Linked DNA regions of Homo sapiens: region 1 is linked to region 2. The links come from fine-mapping of genetic effects on gene expression. A gene starts in region 2. The other region holds a variant in brackets. All regions are shown on one strand. Distances are between the middles of the regions. Region 1 overlaps FBXO28 (F-box protein 28). Region 2 holds the start of FBXO28 (F-box protein 28).

The links. PIP is the estimated chance that this variant, and not a neighbour inherited with it, causes the effect. A credible set is the group of variants that fine-mapping cannot tell apart.
Region 1: its variant is the best candidate, but not a certain one, in a credible set for the expression of FBXO28 in monocytes after triphosphate RNA (Kim-Hellmuth 2017, PIP 0.75).

Annotation. Positions count from the first base shown.
Region 1 is chr1:224,133,383-224,137,382 of GRCh38, forward strand. FBXO28 (F-box protein 28) reads left to right here. Exons shown (of 5, transcript NM_015176.4): 3 at 692-830. LOC124903813 (UPF0764 protein C16orf89-like) reads right to left here. Exons shown (of 3, transcript XM_047436340.1): 3 at 2,827-2,931. The coding sequence ends at 2,827. Among named protein-coding and RNA genes, the nearest start is that of FBXO28, 21 kb to the left of the region's middle. The variant A/AG (reference allele first, on the strand shown) is at 2,243.
Region 2 is chr1:224,111,444-224,115,940 of GRCh38, forward strand. It overlaps FBXO28 (F-box protein 28), which reads left to right and starts at 2,668. Exons shown (of 5, transcript NM_015176.4): 1 at 2,668-2,953. The coding sequence starts at 2,687. It overlaps LOC105373056 (a long non-coding RNA gene), which reads right to left and starts at 2,597. Exons shown (of 3, transcript XR_007066897.1): 1 at 2,492-2,597; 2 at 1-86. RefSeq lists enhancers at 2,311-2,440, 2,461-2,520, 2,661-2,730.

The DNA of each region.
Region 1 (4,000 bases), 22 kb after region 2:
TAAAAAGTTTAAAGGAGTTAAATTTTATCATCAAAAGCATATCATCTCCTGCCTATATTTCCATGTGTAATCCATTCATTTATCTAATTTCTTTGGTTCTAATAGCCACTAGATTTGATAGCCAAAAAACCTTTACTTTTATTTTTATTTTTGAGATGGAGTCTTGCTCTATCACCCAGGCTGGAGTGCAAGTGGTGCAGTCTTGGTTCACTGCAACCTCCGACGCCCGGGTTCAAGCGAGTCTCCTGCCTCAGCCTCCCTAGTAGCTGGGACTATAGGCATGCACCATCACGCCTGGCTAATTTTTTAGTAGAGACGGGGTTTCACCATGTTGCCCAGCCTGGTCTCAAACTCCTGACCTCAGGTGATCCACCCGCCTCAGCCTCCTAAAGTGCTGGGATTACAGGCGTGAGCCTCCAAGCCCGGCCCCAAAAAACCTAATTAAAATATATATATATATATATAATTTGTTTTGTTTGTTTTCAAATATTTTGTCAATGAGTACCAGTCTTTGGTAACGATTTCTAGGCATAGTGATTCATTCATCATTACAGTTAAATTATGACCCAACTGTAGATTTCTAAATTAACATGTAAAAGACTGTTTCATTAAGCCATCTTGATTGCTTAATATTTTAGTCCACAATACTGCTTTAATGGTTGCCTTGCTTTTATTATTATTATTATTATAGGAGAGAGTCAGAAAGGAGAAACCATTCATTAGCTCGTCATGCAGACATTCTTGCTGCTGTTGAAACAAGGCTGTCACTATTAAATATGACTTTCATGAAATATGTGGATTCCAATCTCTGTTGCTTCATCCCAGGAAAGGTAAAATAGAATTGCTTGCCTAGAACAGCTGGACTGCCCTACATAAACTTATTATACAGTTATGAATTTCTGATTTTAGAAATGTTAGAATTGTTTCTACTTCTCTGAGTTTCTACTAATGAATTTGTTTGCTTTCTGTACAGTTATAAATATGTATCATTTGTATGATCTTTATATTTAAAATTCTAATTATGAAATAGTCGAAACCCTAATATTCTTTAGAGAAGTTTTTTAAGAGTTCATACTCAAGAATAAAATTTGAGGTTTTACTGGTGGTTATGATGCCAGAGATACAGCAATGAACAACATACATATTGTCCCTGCCTTCAAGACTATTATAATTTTGGGGAGGTAGAAAAGGAGGGACAAGCTGGTTTTTGTTTTGTTTGAGAAATGTTTCATAACGACAACTTTATAAACTTTCTGATTTGACAAGAATAAACAATTGCTATTTACCAATATTCCCAGAACTAAATAACAGTCCTTTTTAACACAGAAATAACTATATTGTGGCATATTTACCATTACTAAGTTAATAAAAACTCCAACATTCAACATACTACTTATACCTTCAGTAGTACCCTACTCCTTGAATTAAGTGTAAATTGACATATGTCTGTATCTTTTTATATGGAAGTGGTAGAGATATAATTAAAGGTCATTTTGCTACTTGGTTGATGCTGGCAAAAGTTTCCCTTAACATGGTTGGAAATAATTAATATCTAGTAAAATCTGAATGTTCGCTTTTTGTTATTTCCAAAGATAATTTACATTGGCAATATTTAATACGTACTTTGTCCATTTTTAGTTTTCTTTGACATTTATTTTTGGGGGGAATCCCATTTCTTATGATTGTATTTGAAATATTTTGGTATATCTCACTTTCTTTGCATTATATACATTTTCTTTAAAAGATCTTGTTGCATACCAACACATTACCTGCTAATGCTTTTTGTAGGGTGCTATAAGAGGATGACCAGTTAGAAACTTCAGAGTGATTCTTATGCCAGATTTTTCTGAATCTGACTTAAAGGCCTTAACTTTTAAGTGTTCCTGAGTTCTTTGAACTTAGCTTGTTTCATATAGCATCATAGTTTTTATTGAATATCTCATTGTTAGAAACATGAATATCTAAGAAACATCTCACAGTTATCATAACTTCAAAGAGATTCAGTCAGTTGTTAAGTAACAGAGTTGAATAGTTTGTGACAGAGTTCATGTGGCCTACAAAGATTAAAATATTTATGATCCAGGCCGGCTGTAGTGGCTCGCACCTCTAATCCCAGATACTTGCAAGGCTGAGGCAGAAGAATCGCTTGAACCCGGGAGGCGGAGGTTGCACTGAGCCAAGATCACACCACTGCACTCCAGCCTGGGCAACAGAGCAAGACTCTGTCTCAAAAAAAAAAAAA[A/AG]AAAAAAAAAAGAAAAAGAAAAAGAAAAATTTAGTATCTGGCCTGTACAGAAGAAGTCACCAATTTCTGTGCTAGTTGATCAGGCTCACGTGTTTGGAATGGTGATGTTGACAGTCTAAACAAATAATGTTGCCAGGTGCCGTGGCTCACACCTGTAATCCCCACACTTTGGGAGGCCGAGACGGGCAGATCACAAGGTCAGGAGATCAAGACCAGCCTGGCGAACATGGGGAAACCCTGTCTCTACTAAAAATACGAAAATTAGCTGGGCATGGTGGCATGTGCCTGTAATCCCAGCTACTCGGGAGTCTCAGGCAGGAGAGTCACTTGAACCAGGCAGTCAGAGGTTGCAGTGAGCCGAGATCATGCCACTGCACTCCAGCCTGGCGACAAAGCAAGACTCTATCTCAAAAACAAACAAATAATGTTAAATCCACTGGAGTCCTGTCATTTTTGGAAACCATTTGTTGACTTCAGTTTTTTTTTTTTTTTTTTTTGAGATGGTGTCGTGCTGTGTCACCCAGGCTGGAGTGCAGTGGGGCAATCTCAGCTAACAGCAACCTCTGCCTCCCGGTACAGGTGCATTATTTGGATTGTTTTATGAGTGTTCCCTTTTTTGTACTTCTCATGCTTAAACTTTTCACATCCTGTCTGCAAAATATAAGGATGCGGCATTTAATTTCCACATGCTGAAGTAAGAACATTATACAAAATAATTTTCAGTCTAACATATAATCTTCATTTAATATATGGTGTTTATGATAAGTTGTTCTTGTTTTCCCTGAGATCTTGCTTCTGGGATGTACTTAAAAGTTTAGGCCGGGCGCGGTAGCTCACACCTGTAATCCCAGCACTTTAGGAGGCCAAGGTGGGCGGATCACAAGGTCAGGAGGTCCAGACCATCCTTGCTAACATGGTGAAACCCCATCTCTACTAAAAATACAAAAAAAAAAACTAGCTGGGCATGGTGGCGGGCGCCTATAGTCCCAGCTACTCGGGAGGCTGAGGCAGGAGAATGGCATGAACCTGGGAGGCAGAGCTTGCAGTGAGCCAAGATCGTGCCACTGCACTCCAGCCTGGGCGACAGAGCAAGACTTTGTCTCCAGAAAAAAAAAAAGTTCAGAAGTCTTTTTGTTTTTGTTTTTGAGATGGGGTCTCGTTCTGTCGCCCAGGCTGGAGTCCATTGGTGCAATCTTGGCTCACCGCAACCTCTGCCACCCAGGTTTAGGCGATTCTCATGCCTCAGCCTCCCAAGTAGCTGAGACTACAGGTGCACACCACCACAGCCAGGTAATTTTTGTATTTTTAGTAGAGACGAGGTTTCACCATGTTGGCCAGGCTGGCCTCAAACTCCTGATCTCAAGTGATCCGCCTGCCTTGGCCTCCCAAAGTGCTGGGATTACAGGTGTGAACCACTGTGCCTAGCCACAGAAGCTTTTATACTTTGTTAAGAAAACTAACTTTTGTGGTTTTATATAGACTACATTCATTTTGTCAAACTTAAGGTCTACAGTAAGCATTTTATTCACTTAAGTGAATCTGAGTAGTAGCAACATTATAGTTCAAATTAGATAGCCAAATATGTACCAAAATTTTGGACCTTTAAAGTAATAGTTGGGACTGGGCACGGTGGCTCACGCCTGTAATCGCAGCACTTTGGGAGGCCAAGACGGGTAGATCACAAGGTCAAGAGATCGAGACCATCCTGGCCAACATGGTGAAACCCCATCTCTACTAAAAATACAAAAATTAGCTGGG
Region 2 (4,497 bases):
AGTTTTATCATGAGATTGCAGCAACAATTTAGTCACATCTTCAGGCTTCACTTCTAATTCCAGTTCTCTTGCTATTTCCACCATAGCTGCAGGAGAAGAAGAGAGATGGGGAAACAGCAGCCAGTCAGAACACCTACATGTATTGATTAAATTTGCCGTCTTATATGGGTATGATTGGTGGCACCTCAAAACAATTACAATAGTAACATAAAGATTACTGATCTGCCAGGCATGGTGGCTCACTCTCGTAATCTCAACACTTTGGGAGGCCAAAGCAGGCAGACTGCTTGAGCACAAGAGTTCAAGGCCAGCCTGGGCAACGTGGCAAAACCCTGTTTCTACAAAAAAAAATCAAAAATTATCCAGGTGTGGTGGCACACACCTGTAGTCCCAGCTACTCAGGAGGCCAAGGTTGGGGGATTGCTTGAACCCAGGCGGTGGAGGCTACAGTGAGCCATCATCCTGTCATTGCACTCCAGTCTGGGCAACAGAGCAAGATGCTGCCTCAATAAACAAAAAAAATTACTGATCACAGCTCACCATAACAGATATAACAATAATAAAAAGTTTTAAATATCAGAGGAATTATCAAAATGTGACAGAAAGAAACAAGGTGAACACATGCTGTTGGAAAAATGGCACCAAGAGACTTGCTCAAGGGTTGCCACAAACCTTCAATTCATTTTTAAAAACGCAATATCTGAGAAGCACAAGAAAGCAAAGTGTAAAATACAAAGCATGCGGCCGGGCGCCATTGCTGCCTGTAATCCCAGCACTTTGGGAGGCTGAGGTGGGTGGATCACAAGGTCAGGAGTTCGAGAGCAGCCTGGCCAAGATGGTGAAATCCCGTCTCTACTAAAAATACAAAAATTAGCCAGACGTGATGGTGGGCGCCTGTAATCCCAGCTACTCAGGAGGCTGAGGCAGGAGAATTGCTCGAACCAGCTGACATCGCACCACTGCACTCTAGCCTGGGTGACAGAGCAAGACTCCATCTCAAAAAAATAAATAAATAAATAAAGGAAAATAATAGAAGCATGCTTATCCTTCAATGTGTATTTCCTAAAGACAAAGACATTGTCTTATATGACCATAATACAATTACCCAAATCGAAAAATTTAATATGATTACAGTATAATCTAATATACTGTCCATTTTTAAATTTTGCCAGTTGTCACAATAACGTTCTTCATAGTTATTTCTTCCTTAATCCAGGATCCCATCCAGGATCACCCATAGATTTAGTTGCCCTGTCTCTTTAGTATCCTTTAATCTGCCACAAACCCTTAGTCTTTGTCTTTTGTAACGTTAACACTTTTGAATAATTTATGGGCCCGTCATCTAGCGATGTCTACCTCAAACGCAACTCGTGCTTTTTTTGCATGAATACTACATTATGCTGCGTCCTTTTCAGGGTATTATATTAATAGGCATATGATATTGGCTCCTCCTATAACTGTGGCGTTAGTCTTGATCATTTGGTTATGATGGTGTCCACCAAATTTCTCTATTGTAAACTTTTTTTTTTTTTCTCGCTCTGTTGCCCAGGCTGGAGTGCAGTGGCAGGCTGACGGTTCGCTGCAGCCTCGAACTCGTGTGGCTCAAGCAATCCTCCCATCTCAGCCTCACGAGTAGCTAGGACCATAGGACCTAGCCACCACATTTGGCTAATTTTTTGTATTTTTTGTAGAGATGGGGTTTCTCCACGTTGCCCAGGCTGGTCTCCAACTTCTGGGCTAAAGTGATTCTCCCGCTTCAGCCTTCCAAAGTGCTGGATTACAGGCGTGAGTCAACACGCCCAGCCTTGTAAACTATTTCTTTTCATCTTTGTAAATAATACATAATTTATGGGGAGTTATTTTGAGACTATGGAAATATCATGTTCCTCATCACGTTTACCTCCTAGTTTTAGTACCTTTTGATGATTCTTGCCTAAATCAGTTATTAGAATACAATTCATATATGATAAAATTCATTAAAGTATATAGTAATTCAGTGGTTTTTGTATATTCATACGGTTGTGTAACCATCACCGCTAATTCCAGAGCATTTTTATCACCCCGAAAATGAAACCCTTCACCCATTAGCACTCATTTCCCCATTTCCCCCAGCCTCTGGCGACCACTAATCTACTTTTTATCTCTATGGATTTGCCTATTTAAGACATCCTATATAAATGCAATCATACAATATGTGGTCCTTTGTGTCTAACTTATTTCACTTAATATGTTCTCACGGTTCATTCATGTTGTAGTTCTTATTGATATTTCATACCTTTTTATTTGCCTAAATCAATCATTTCTATGATTCCTAAAAAATGGTGCTAGTCTAACTACATTATTTCCATCTACACTTACTAGGCAACATCTTTATCATCCATTGTCAGGAAGCCCTTTAAGAAAACTGCACAGTGAAGTTCATTTTAATAAATAGGGTTTCCTTGCTCTCAAGTAGTTACTAATCTTAGACAAAAGGGTCTAGGATGACCACCTTTCTTGAGGTTTACATGATCTTCCCTGACTTCCACTTGAAAGGCACCCTGTGAGTCTCTCTCCGCCTGTTATCCCACAGGCTCCTCCCCACTCCTCCAGGTACCCCTTCCCCGGCGGCTGCAGGAGGAGGAAGTGACGCACCGGAAGTGTCCCTGTTCCCCTTGCTGTGGGGGTAAGGAATCAAGCCCCCAAGATGGCGGCAGCGGCGGAGGAGCGGATGGCAGAGGAAGGAGGCGGCGGCCAAGGCGACGGCGGTTCCTCTTTGGCCTCCGGCTCTACCCAGCGACAGCCTCCACCGCCCGCGCCACAGCACCCGCAGCCGGGGTCCCAGGCGCTCCCAGCCCCCGCGCTGGCTCCGGACCAGCTGCCTCAAAACAACACGCTTGTGGCGCTGCCCATCGTAGCCATCGAGAACATCCTCAGCTTTATGTCCTACGACGAAATTAGCCAGCTCCGCCTGGTGAGGCCCCCGCAGAACTCCTGCCTCCCTCTCCCCCCGGCCGAGGTCTGGGAGATGAGAAGGGAGCGCGTTCCCCGGGAAGGGAGCCCCCCGCGAGCCCCAGCCGGCTACAGATCTGGGAGGGAGCCGCTCCCGTCCCGAACTCTCCCTTGGCGTCAGTCAGCAGGAGTGGGCTGGTTCCCGATTGCGTCCTAGCTGCGGAGCTGGGGTTACTTCCTGAGGGGACTTCGCCTTGGGGGCTCCTTGCCCCCCGCCCGGAAGCGGGCCCTCTACGGGAGGGGTAGCGGAGTTGGTCTTCCCACCTTCCGCCTGGCCCGAGAGTAGACCCGGAGAGGTCATGTCGCCTGCCTTTTGTATGCCGCTTCCAGCCCCCGGCCTGGGTTTGGGGAGAAAACTCAGAAGTAGGCAGATGATCCCAGCCAGGTTTGGTTTATCTTGCAAGAATAACGAATTGTTCCCCACCCCAACCACCCAAGTTTTCTTGTTCGAGAAGATTGAGTAGACTAAGGTGGCTCAGTGACCCCAAACCCAGGTAGAGGTTCCGAAGAATTCGAACGTGTTTACTTAGCGTTAGCCCCAGCGCCCTAATTGACCACTAAAGTAGAGCCTTGGGAAATGACCATTCCTGCTTTGCCTCATCCTAACGCTTCCCACCGTAGAGAAGCAACTTACCCCTTGACGGGTTTTTTCTCTTTTGCAATTTATTTTTAACTAGTGATTTACGCCCACCCACCTGCTTTAGGAGAGGTTTCTTTATACCTTAAAATCACAATAGGTCAGTCCATGATTTTTAAAAATAATGAATTTGCCATTGGGGTTTTACTTCACTCCAGAGGTTTGAAGATGTGGTGATTGTTAGTTCAGTTAGATATTTTGCTGCCTTTCAATGAAATTATCTTTAAGTGGTAAAGAAATTGAAGGAGGTGGACATTTTGAAGTGATTGCAAACCGATTCCATGGAGAAGCTAAATCTGTGCTGGGAATTGTTTTTAAGAGGACAAAGATATTTCTGAATGTGCTGTGTATAACATCTTCTTATTACTCAATATGCTATATTGTAGGCATACACCTCCACTTTCAAGTGGATTATAATTACATTTTTAAAGGAAATCATAACATTTTTAAAAGAGAACTTATAAATATTAATTCAAACTGATGGCCAATTTTTTTTCTAGTCAACACAGCAGTTCAACCATGCCAGTCTGCAGGATGGAAAATTTCTTCAGCTGAAAATAGATATTTCACAATTGATTGCCTCTGAATTTCCAAAACGTTTTCATTCTAGAATTTCATGTAGAATCTTAAATATTCCTTCAGATTTTTACAAACAGTGGCGTTTAATCAAAATTCGCGCTGTACATATACAGTGTTTGGAAAATTGGGCATATAACATTTGATTGAATTGAACCATTCAACCAGACAATGGCTTTGTAAATCTTGGAATATTCACAGTTCTGTTTTGTAAGTGTTGAGAAAAACTGAGTTTTATTTGTTTGTTGATCATTTTACTATTTTAAAAAAATGTAGTGGGGAGGGGGGAACCA